Linked DNA regions of Homo sapiens. The protein of the gene in region 1 interacts with the protein of each later gene in a pairwise test. Each region holds a gene or a part of one and is shown in the gene's direction. Other genes may lie near its edges. The genes, in order: GRN, ZNF497 and ZNF296.

Region 1 (3,744 bases):
CTGGCTCCCAAGAGGCTCAACAGACATTACTGTTTTTGCTTCTTCATTATGAGTTACCTCTCTGGCCACCCCACTGAACTAGCTGGGCTAGCTGAGCCTGGGAGAAGAGTTGTTTAGGAAGTGAGAGGCTGCTCTCCACAGAGACTCAAGGCTCAGTTCCTCCTGGTGACTCAGATGGGCAGCCCAGTGGGCACACGTGGTCTCTCTCCACATGTGGCTGAGTTTCACTTCCAGAATAGATGGAGAGGCAAGGGCAGGGTTTAGCATGCTTGAGGAATCTCAGAGGGCCCTGGTGGTGTGGGGGACCCTCAGAACACAGGTGTCTCAAGGGCTGACCCAGCTTCTGTGTCCTTTTCTCTGGGTGAGGAGGGGACATTCATGGGCAGATGGTGACCTCTGGGGAAGGCAGCCCAGACTCCACTGGCCACCATATTTCCTTTTTCACAACTTTCTCACCCCTGTGGTTTCCCATGTCATCATGTGGCCGCTTCCCGCAAGGCCTTAGCGGGGTGCAGGTATGAACATAGTGTCAGGCAAGGAGGCATCTGGAGGGGAACCCTGGCTTTTCCTGGGGGGACTCCCTCCCTGCACCCTAGCCCTGTCCTCTCCCATGGCTACTGATGCCTTCCCCTCACCCCAGAGGTGGCCCACATCTGCACAGATCAGACCCACAAAAATCACGTCTTCCTGACTCTCATAAGCCTGCCCAGTGAGGCCCAGGCATTAGGCCATGTGCTGGGGACTCAGACCCACACATATACGCATGTCAGCATTCATGCTTACAGGTCCGCACATGCTGGGGCAAGTGTCACACACGGGGCGCTGTAGGAAGCTGACTCTCAGCCCCTGCAGATTTCTGCCTGCCTGGACAGGGAGGTGTTGAGAAGGCTCAGGCAGTCCTGGGCCAGGACCTTGGCCTGGGGCTAGGGTACTGAGTGACCCTAGAATCAAGGGTGGCGTGGGCTTAAGCAGTTGCCAGACGTTCCTTGGTACTTTGCAGGCAGACCATGTGGACCCTGGTGAGCTGGGTGGCCTTAACAGCAGGGCTGGTGGCTGGAACGCGGTGCCCAGATGGTCAGTTCTGCCCTGTGGCCTGCTGCCTGGACCCCGGAGGAGCCAGCTACAGCTGCTGCCGTCCCCTTCTGGTGAGTGCCCCTCAGCCTAGGCAAGAGCTGGCAGCCTGGGTTTTCCCAAAGGGTCATCTTGGATTGGCCAGAGGAGGACGCCAGGCACAAGTCTGTGGTTTATCATTTTCCCTGTCTTTCTAGGACAAATGGCCCACAACACTGAGCAGGCATCTGGGTGGCCCCTGCCAGGTTGATGCCCACTGCTCTGCCGGCCACTCCTGCATCTTTACCGTCTCAGGGACTTCCAGTTGCTGCCCCTTCCCAGAGGTGAGCGTGCCATCAGCCCAGTGGAGGGGCTTAGGTCTGCATTTATGCTTTTCCTGCACTCTACCACCTGCAGATAAAAGGGCCCTGCCAATGCAGGTTTCTCTGTGTTCCACAGGCCGTGGCATGCGGGGATGGCCATCACTGCTGCCCACGGGGCTTCCACTGCAGTGCAGACGGGCGATCCTGCTTCCAAAGATCAGGTGCAGCTGGGGTGTGGGTGCAGGGCAGGCAGACGGGCAGCATGTGGAGTCTGGAACCCAGGAGCCCAGCTGGCGGGGGCAGCCCTGATTCCTGCCCTTGTGCCCTCATTCATGTGGCATCTGTACTAAGCAACAGCCCTGCTGTGGACAGAGGGGCAGCACTGGGGATAGGAGGGTGCGGGAGAAAGTGCAAGACTCCAGGTCCAGGCGTTGTGGGGGTGGGGAGAGGTCGAGCTGGGCCGGTCTAATACCAACCCATGGTCAGTGGGTGCCCCTTCCCCATGCCATCTTGCTGAGGGAGGGACTGGATTGTGAGGAGGGTGAGTTAGGCCTGCCTAGGAGATCACTGAGCCTTAGTGTCACCCTCAAACCCCAGTAGCTGGGCTTGCAGGCCCTGGTGCCACCAGCTCCTTGTGTGATGGGGGAGTCACCTTCCCTGAGTGGGCTGGTAGTATCCTGGGTCATCTTGTCCACAGGTAACAACTCCGTGGGTGCCATCCAGTGCCCTGATAGTCAGTTCGAATGCCCGGACTTCTCCACGTGCTGTGTTATGGTCGATGGCTCCTGGGGGTGCTGCCCCATGCCCCAGGTACAAATCTGGGGGAGATGGGGGTATGTGGAGGGAAGTGGGGGCAGAGTTGGGGGCCAGGGGCAGGGGGTGAAGACGGAGTCAGGACCATTTTTTCTCAGGCTTCCTGCTGTGAAGACAGGGTGCACTGCTGTCCGCACGGTGCCTTCTGCGACCTGGTTCACACCCGCTGCATCACACCCACGGGCACCCACCCCCTGGCAAAGAAGCTCCCTGCCCAGAGGACTAACAGGGCAGGTGAGGAGGTGGGAGAGCATCAGGCCAGGGGCTGGGGCGGGGCCTCATTGACTCCAAGTGTAGGAAAAAGTTTCCTCCATCCTGGCTGCCCCTCACGTTTGCTCCTCTTCCAGTGGCCTTGTCCAGCTCGGTCATGTGTCCGGACGCACGGTCCCGGTGCCCTGATGGTTCTACCTGCTGTGAGCTGCCCAGTGGGAAGTATGGCTGCTGCCCAATGCCCAACGTGAGTGAGGGGCTGGAGCCAGCTTGGCTGTGTGCCCCCAGCCACCTGGCCCTGACACGCACCTTACAGGGGCTCTGTGGCATGGGGCTGGCTGGCTGCTTGCTGGGAGCCTGGCTGATGCAGGGTTCATGCTACCCCCTAGTGGGGGATTGGGGCAGTGCCAGCCATCAGCCTGGCTGCTCCCTGTGTGCTACTGAGCCTGGAAGTGACAAAGACCCACCCCTGTCCCCACTCAGGCCACCTGCTGCTCCGATCACCTGCACTGCTGCCCCCAAGACACTGTGTGTGACCTGATCCAGAGTAAGTGCCTCTCCAAGGAGAACGCTACCACGGACCTCCTCACTAAGCTGCCTGCGCACACAGGTACCAGAGGCAGGGTGCAGATACAGGGGTGGGGCCCCCTTTCCTCCCTTTTAGGCCTGGCCTTAGGATCACTGCAAGGTGGTGTAAGCGGTACCCTCCATCTTCAACACCTGGTTCCAGCTGTGGAGCCGGCAAAGGGTTGATACCCCTGAGGGTCCCCAGTGCCACTTCTGACCTGTCCTCTCTGCTTCCCTCACAGTGGGGGATGTGAAATGTGACATGGAGGTGAGCTGCCCAGATGGCTATACCTGCTGCCGTCTACAGTCGGGGGCCTGGGGCTGCTGCCCTTTTACCCAGGTACCCAGGGGTGGCGGGTGGGTGGGCTGAGCACAGTGTGGCAGGCAGCCGGGCCCCAGTGCCCACCTGCCCTTCTTCATCTGCCCTAGGCTGTGTGCTGTGAGGACCACATACACTGCTGTCCCGCGGGGTTTACGTGTGACACGCAGAAGGGTACCTGTGAACAGGGGCCCCACCAGGTGCCCTGGATGGAGAAGGCCCCAGCTCACCTCAGCCTGCCAGACCCACAAGCCTTGAAGAGAGATGTCCCCTGTGATAATGTCAGCAGCTGTCCCTCCTCCGATACCTGCTGCCAACTCACGTCTGGGGAGTGGGGCTGCTGTCCAATCCCAGAGGTATATGGGAGGGGACAGCATCTTGGCCTGGGCAGGTGGGTGGCCAAGCTCCTATTGCTTTCTGCCCTCCGCATAGCCCATAGGTGATACCCAGCTCTGACAGATT
Region 2 (3,744 bases), on another chromosome or scaffold:
ATATATTTCTGCTGTTTTAAGCCACCAAATTTGTGGTAATTTGCTGCATAACCACAGGAAACTAACACACCATCCCTCAGTTCTGCTTTTCTGTATGGACTCCATTCTCTTAACAGATTCATCCTTCAGCGGGGCAAGAAGGCTGCAGCTGCCCCAGCTGACAGATGCTCACAGCCTCAGGTTCAAAGCAGATAGAGGCCCTAACAGTTCAGAGAGAAGTCCCACGATGCTCACAGGTCCAAAGTGACCACTGCCAGGGCCAGAGGGATGGACTGCCCTGTGCTGTGGACCTGGGCCATGTACCCACACCTGCCCAAACCACCTGGGCTGAGGTGAGAGCTCCCTAGTACAAATTGGGAAAAATTGGTACAAAAAGAGCTCGTGGAGGCCGGGTGCAGTGGCTCGGGTCTGTAATCCTAGCACTTTGGGAGGCCAAGGTGGGAGGATCACTTGAGCCCAGAAGTTCAAGACCAGCCTGGGCCATATAGCGAGACCCCGTCTCTAGCTATTCATTTATTTTAGCTTACAGCATCTGGTCTATGTTGTTTTTTGAGACGGAGTCTTGCTCTGTCACCCAGGCTGGAGTGTGCAGTGGCACGACCTCAGCTCACTGTAACTTCTGCCTCCCCGGTTCAAGCGATTCTCCTGCCTCAGCCTCCCGAGTAGCTGGGATTATAGGCACACGCCAACAAGCCTAATTTTTGTATTTTCAGTAGAGACGGGGTTTCACCATGTTGGTCAGGCTGGTCTCGAACTCCTGACCTCGTGATCTGCCCGCCTCGGCCTCCCAAAGTTCTGGGATTACAGGCGTGAGCCACCGCGCCCGGTTTATTTATTTATTTTAGCCAACAGCACTCGGTGTTCCCAGACGGTCTCCCAAGTACTAACCAGGCCCGACCCTGCTTAGCTTCTGAGATCCCGACTCAATTTTTTTTTTTTTTTTTTGAGACGGAGTCTCGTTCTGTCGCCCCAGGCTGGAGTGCAGTGTCGCGATCTCGGCTCACTGCAAGCTCCGCCTCCCAGGTTCAAGCGATTCTCCTGCCTCAGCCTCCCGAGTAGCTGGGACTACAGGCGCCCGCCACCACGCCCGGCTAATTTTTTGTATTTTTAGTAGAGACGGGGTTTCTCCGTGTTAGCCAGGATGGTCTCGATCTCCTGACCTCGTGATCCGCCCGCCTCGACCTCCCAAAGTGCTGGGATTACAGGCGTGAGTCACCGCGCCCGGCCCCCGACTCTATTTTAAAAACCGCGTGGATTCCAGCTTGGTGGGTGTTCCACAGCGCGTGGGTGTGAGACGCAGCTCAGTGGCGTCAACTCAGCAAGGTTCCAGGGTGGTAAAGACGGCCTGGGGCCGGAGGAGGACCGCCAGGGAGAAGCTACGTTGGCCCGACTTGCGTCCGCGACCCGGGCAGCCCCAGGCGCCTGTGTAGCTGTTGGGTGTGTGCCGCAGAGGCTGGCCGGGTGCAGGAAGGGGCGGAGCGCATCCATGGCAACGCAGGACGCCCGAGTAGCTTGGCTGTGGCGCCGTCCCCATGGGAACCAGAAGGCGCGCGCCCGCAGCCGCGGCATAGTTACGCAGGCGCAGTGGGGAGAAACGCGACGCCTTGGGCCGCTCTGCCGAATGCAACCGCGCCCCCAGGAGACCCGGTGCCCGCCCTCCTACCATTCCACGCGGCTCGAGCCCGCGTGCGGGCCTCTTTCAGGCCGCTCCTAGTGGACGCAGAGGCGGGCCGAGGACGGTGAGTGACGCCGACGGACACCCTCGGCCAGGCACAGATCCGCCCTCCGGCTCCAACCACTCCCGCCGCGCGGGGCAGGACGGGCCTCGGCCCTGAGCTGGGCCCTCTGGGACCACCGAGAGATAGGCCTCCGCGCCGTCCAGAGCGGCCCGGAAGTGGCCCTGCACGGGCCAGAGGCGACCGTGGTCGGGACGGAAATGGCTCCCGTTTGCTGTTCTCTCGGTGAACGCGAGCCTTATGGCGATCAGTTCTGTGGCATCGTTCCTCCTGCTCGTTTATTCTTTCACTCATTCACTCATGCCCTGCCGCGCCATCATTTCTTCCCACATTCATTTATTCGTTCATCAGTCCCCAGCCCCGGGTAGTTTCGGAGCTCACCAGGCTGGGCTCGCCTCCCAGCCTCCGGAGCTGCCCGCACAGGCCTCGCGCCACCTGGCCGCAGCTTCCTCCCCTTTATCCACTCCGTATTTGTTTGTCCAGCCTAGGCCTTGGGGGTTGTGGGGGAGACACAAGTACCCGTGACTGGTCGGACAAGTGCCCGTTGTTGGGGGCGTGGGCGCTGGGACTGACGCGGGAGGTGGCTCTGATCATGTCGAGGTGAGGAGGAGGCGTTGAGGCTCAGAAAGGGCACGCAGCGTGGACGTGAGGACGTCGGGGAGGCTGGAGCAGTGAGGCCGACAGGAAGGACCTTACGGGGCTCACATGCTATCCCACGACGAGGACGGACTCAGGACGGCAGCCCTGATAGATGCGGCTGGGGGCTGGCGGGTCGGGGTCGCACACCACAGGATGGAGGGGCAGCGGTGCCTGGCTCCGCCTTAAGAAACATGGGCCCTTGGGGGACCCGGATTTCTGATACTTCAATACACAAATATGGATTTTTATTGAAATCAGATGTCGTTTTTTTAAAATTTAACTTTTGATTTGAGGTAATTATAAATTCACATGCAGTAACAAGTAATGCATACCCTATGTACGCTTTACCCAATTCCCCTAAAGGTGGCATCTTGAAAAACTAGAGGCCAGGTGCGGTGGCTCATGTCTGTAATCCCAGCACTTTGGGAGGCCAAGGCGGGTGGATCCCTTGAGCTCAGGAGTTAAAGACCAGCCTGAGCAACATGGTGAAACCCCATCTGTACTGAAAACACAAAAATTAGGCGGGTGTGGAGGCTGGTGCCTGTAATCCCAGCTACTCGGGAGTCTCAGGCAGGAGAATCGCTTGTACCCAGGAGGCGGAGGTCGCGGTGAGCCCACATCACGCCACTGCACTCCAACCTGGGCAACAGAGCGAGACTCTGTCTCAAAAAAAGAGAAGAGAAAGAAAAACTAGAGTACAATATCACAACTGAGATGCAGAATATTTCCATCACGAAGGATCCCCGTGTTGCCCTTACAGAGCCGCATACCCTTCCCTCCTACCTCTGCTCCCCGTTAACCTCTTTTTGTCAACTAGTAATCTGTTCTCATTTCTACCATTTTGTCATTTTACGAATGTTGCATAGGCTGGGCGAGGTGTCTCGCGCCTGTAATACTAGCACTTTGGGAGGCCGAGGCGGGTGGACCATCTGAGGTCAAGAGTTCAGGACCGGCCCACCGGCCGGGTGCCGTGGCTCACGCCTGTAATCCCAGCACTTTGGGAGGCTGAGGCGGGCGGATCACGAGGTCAGGAGATCGAGACCATCCTGGCTAACACGGTGAAACCCCGGCTCTACCAAAAATATAAAAAAATTAGCCGGGCATGGTGGCAGGCGCCTGTAGTCCCAGCTACTTGGGAGGCTGAGGCAGGAGAATGGTATGAACCCGGGAGGCAGAGCTTGCAGTGAGCCAGGATAGCGCCACTGGACTCCAGCCTGGGCGACAGAGCAAGACTCTTCTCAAAAAAAAAAAAAAAAAAAAAAAAAAAAAAAAAGAGTTCGGGACCAGCCTGGCCAACATGGTGAAACCCCATCTCTACTAAAAAATAAAATAAAATAAAATAAAATAAGCCAGGCCTGATGGCAGGCAT
Region 3 (3,744 bases), on another chromosome or scaffold:
CCAGCCTGGGCAACAAGAGTGAAACTCCATCTCAAAAAAAAAAAAAAAAAAAAAGAGTAAAATAAGGGCAATGGGATAGTGGGTGGCTGGGTTGCCATGGAACTTAAAATTGGGTGGTCTGAGGCTGAGTGCAGTGTCTCACACCTGTAATCTCAGCACTTTGGGATGCTGAAGCAGGAGGAGCGCTTCAAGCCAAGAGTTTCAGACCAACCAGGGCAACAAAGCGAGTCCCTGTCTCTATTTAAAAATAATTTTTTTTGAAAAATTAAAAATTACAAAAAAAAAAAGGGTGATCAGAGGAGGCGGCAGTGAAGAAGAAACCACCTCAGATAACCCTCTAGTTCCAACCTGCCCTACCTCCTTTGACAGATGGAGAAAGTGAGATCCAAGAGGGAACTGGGGACAGATGGAGGTCATGGAGTGTAATTTGCAAGGCCTTCAGCAGGGTGGGGCTACTTTAGATACTGTTGGTCAGGGCCCTCTGCTCTCAGGAGGACAATGGAACCCAGACCTGAATAACAATGTGCAGAACTCCAAGAGATCAGCATCTGAAATCAGCATCTGGGCTGAGGACAGCTGGGGGAGGACAGGTTCTTGCCCTGACCTCAGGGGGCTTGCATTGGGTGGGGGAGAGGACAGTCCACAAGCCGTTCTATACTGTCGTGCAGTCGGTGCCAGGAAGAAAAGAATACTCATCAGGGATTGAGGGTGGGGCAGGGTGTCGATGCCACTTCAAACAGTGAGCAGACAGAACTGCTTAGGGGAGGGAAGTTCAAGGAGGCGGAGTGGAGGCAGGTGAGCTGCTTGGCTATTTGGTTTTAATGGCGACTTCTGGTCTAGGAACAGAGTCGATGTGTATGATTACAGTCCTCCTCTGCTCAAAACCCTCCTAAGGCTCCGGTCTCAGGAAAACCAAAAGACCTTAAAGCGATCAAAAGATTGCTTGGATCTGCCCCCATATTTTCACTGAACTCAATCCCCAACCCGTATTGCCTCTCCCTTTCCTTGTAATTCCTCAATGCCCAGGCCCACTGGCTGGGCTTCCTTCCCTCCAGCCTCAGCTCCACCATGCCCTTTCCCATCATAGGGGAGAAAATTGAATCCCTCAACCCCAGTAACCCTCTCCGCCTTTCCAGCTTTCTTTTGCTCCATGGCACTGGTCATCATGAAGGGCCATCTATATTTTACGTAATTATGTTTATAGTGTCTTCCCCCACCGTCTGAACTCCGTGCAAACAAAGATTATCTTCTGTTTATTCCCTCCTGTATTCTCAGGGCTTCAAACAGAGCCTGGCGCACAGGAGGCACTCAGTGAATGCTTGCAAAATGAATTTTTATTGTAATGCATTTAATGAAATAGCCCAGATTACTATCAGGCACCTAATAAGAAACGTGACCGACTATTTTTCTCGCTTGGGGGTGCGTGTGGGCATGCCGTGTCTCAGTTTCACCCGCCCTAAAACGGGATCAGGGATAGCTGTTTCAATGCCTTGTGGGAACTCGGTGTGATTAAATTTGGTCACTAAGCCAAACGCACGGGACACTGCCTAGATTGAGTTAGGCCGCCGTCAGGGCCCCAGCAGGGCGGCTCGGTCCCCTCCCATGAGCCCCGCCCTGGTAGGCGGAGCCACGGGCCCGGCCAGCACGTGTAAGAGTTCGCGGCGGGTCGCCGCAGTCACTCACCTGAGCGCGCACGGTCCGCGCGTCCTCCGCTCGTGCGTCCTCCGCCCGCCCGCCTGCCTGCCTGCCCGCCCGCTCGCTCGCCCGGCCCGCGACTCATGTCCCGCCGCAAGGCCGGCAGCGCGCCCCGCCGAGTAGAGCCCGCGCCCGCCGCCAACCCAGACGACGAGATGGAAATGCAGGACCTCGTCATCGAACTCAAGCCCGAGCCAGACGCGCAGCCCCAACAGGCCCCAAGGCTGGGGCCCTTCTCCCCGAAGGAGGTGTCCTCGGCGGGGCGGTTCGGCGGCGAACCCCACCACTCCCCTGGCCCCATGCCCGCCGGGGCCGCCCTCCTCGCCCTCGGCCCGCGGAACCCGTGGACCCTGTGGACGCCGTTGACCCCGAACTATCCCGGTGAGCACCCCGGGCCCTGGGCCCAGCCTCCCTTACCTTTGACCCTCGGGTGGGACCCTTCCCTTTGGGCATGGGCCCCTCGCCCTGCCTTATCTCCTTCGCCCCGTCCTGCCCCTCAGGCCCCCTTCTGACCTTCGGTTTCCCCTCTCCTTCAGCACCCTCAGCCCCCATCCTGGCCCCACCCCACGCTCACCACCCGCTTCCTCCCTGCAGACCGCCAGCCCTGGACCGACAAACACCCAGATCTGTTGACCTGCGGCCGCTGCCTGCAGACCTTCCCGTTGGAGGCCATCACTGCCTTCATGGACCACAAGAAGCTGGGCTGTCAGCTCTTCAGAGGCCCCAGCCGCGGCCAGGGCTCAGGTGAGTAAAGCCGGGTGCAGTCCCCCTCTCAAGTTCGAGGGCTGGGCTTCCTGCTGGAAAGGGGCTGGGCTGGACGGCAGGGCACTGAGCACTACTTCCCCTTTCTCGCTCCCCATCGGGTGCAGCCTAGGCGTGGCCAGGGCCTGCCCGTCCTAGGGCAGGGACCAGTGGTGGCGGTGGAGGGGGGGCGGGGGGGGACTGGGCAGGGAAGGAGGGCCGCCTACAGGGTGTGGCCAGCCCCAGAAGACTAGCCCGGGATTTTGCCCCCCCCAACACACACCCCAACCTGGTTTCACTTCTCCTTCCCCTTGGCCAGAAATAACTGGCCAGGTGGCTGGACCAGGGTGGCAGTAGGAGGGGACCTCTAGGGAGGGCAGCGGCCGGGGGGAGGGGGAGTGGAGGCCAGCTGGAATGGGGAGGTTGCCACCCCCTCCTGTCTCTCTCTGTCAATTCTGATTGAGGTGCTAGTACAGCTGAGTGTTCAGAGCCAAGGAAGGGGCTTCTGGCTTCCCTCGGTGATGGAATCTCCCAGCCCCGCGTGCTGGGAATCCCCTGGTTTGAGCGAGCTCCCGGGTGCTGGACACCCGGGTTCCTTCTCTTGGGAGGGAATTAAAAGCCTTCACATGGGGCTTGACCCTCGGTGAGCTTTTGGTCAGTGTTGGCTGCAGGGCTTAATCCAAACCTAGTTTCCAGCCCCCTGGCCCTTGCCCTTCTGAGACTTTTGAGAAGTGGAATTATTTAGGGTTGGGCCAGGGAGGGTCTGGTGGTGGGAAAGAGGAGGGGCTTGTGACTGATTGAATCAGCTTTAGAGCTGGAGCATGGAGAGTGGCCTGGAGGAGCGAGCGAGGGGCTGTGATGGAATCGCTGGAACAAAACACTACAGGGCTTGGAGAATCATGGGCACCTTGGTTTCACAGGCTCTGCTGTTTGAGCGCTTATGTGGACCAAAGCTCTCAACCATTCCCCAAGCGAGGTCACAACCACCCTTGAAAGGGAGGGGATCTCTAGGGTCCCTGAATTCTAGCAACTGAGGCACACAGAGGACTATGTCTTGCCCAAGGTCACACAATTAGGGAGCAGAGAAGTCTGAATTTGAATGCAGGCCTGTGCTCTTGACCCAGGACTGGTTGTATCACAAAGGTTGTCCCATCCAAGACTCTAGAATTTGAAAAATGGAAAGGCTAGTTCACCTAGGAAGTGTCCACTGAGAGTACCCCGAAGGTCCAGATAGAAATCCAAATTCAGGTTTGGGGGCTCAATTTGAGATCCATGCAGAGGGTGGGGGACCCAGGTCACTACCACCTC

What was found.
Region 2: the proteins of GRN (region 1) and ZNF497 interact in binary tests that used the Homo sapiens proteins (3 or more experiments, as listed by UniProt).
Region 3: the proteins of GRN (region 1) and ZNF296 interact in binary tests that used the Homo sapiens proteins (3 or more experiments, as listed by UniProt).

What each region holds. Positions count from the first base shown.
Region 1 is NC_000017.11:44,348,158-44,351,901, forward strand, and holds part of GRN (progranulin precursor), read left to right. Parts: intron 1-1,000; 5' UTR 1,001-1,007; coding exon 1,008-1,145; intron 1,146-1,268; coding exon 1,269-1,394; intron 1,395-1,509; coding exon 1,510-1,594; intron 1,595-2,070; coding exon 2,071-2,183; intron 2,184-2,284; coding exon 2,285-2,420; intron 2,421-2,533; coding exon 2,534-2,643; intron 2,644-2,879; coding exon 2,880-3,006; intron 3,007-3,205; coding exon 3,206-3,303; intron 3,304-3,392; coding exon 3,393-3,638; intron 3,639-3,744. UniProt on the Homo sapiens protein: Secreted protein that acts as a key regulator of lysosomal function and as a growth factor involved in inflammation, wound healing and cell proliferation. Regulates protein trafficking to lysosomes, and also the activity of lysosomal enzymes.
Region 2 is NC_000019.10:58,360,672-58,364,415, reverse strand, and holds the start of ZNF497 (zinc finger protein 497), read left to right. Parts: upstream 1-1,664; 5' UTR 1,665-1,739; exon of another isoform or gene 1,740-1,790; intron 1,791-3,744. UniProt on the Homo sapiens protein: May be involved in transcriptional regulation.
Region 3 is NC_000019.10:45,074,408-45,078,151, reverse strand, and holds the start of ZNF296 (zinc finger protein 296), read left to right. Parts: upstream 1-1,673; 5' UTR 1,674-1,778; coding exon 1,779-2,076; intron 2,077-2,289; coding exon 2,290-2,439; exon of another isoform or gene 2,440-2,525; intron 2,526-3,744. UniProt on the Homo sapiens protein: May be a transcriptional corepressor with KLF4.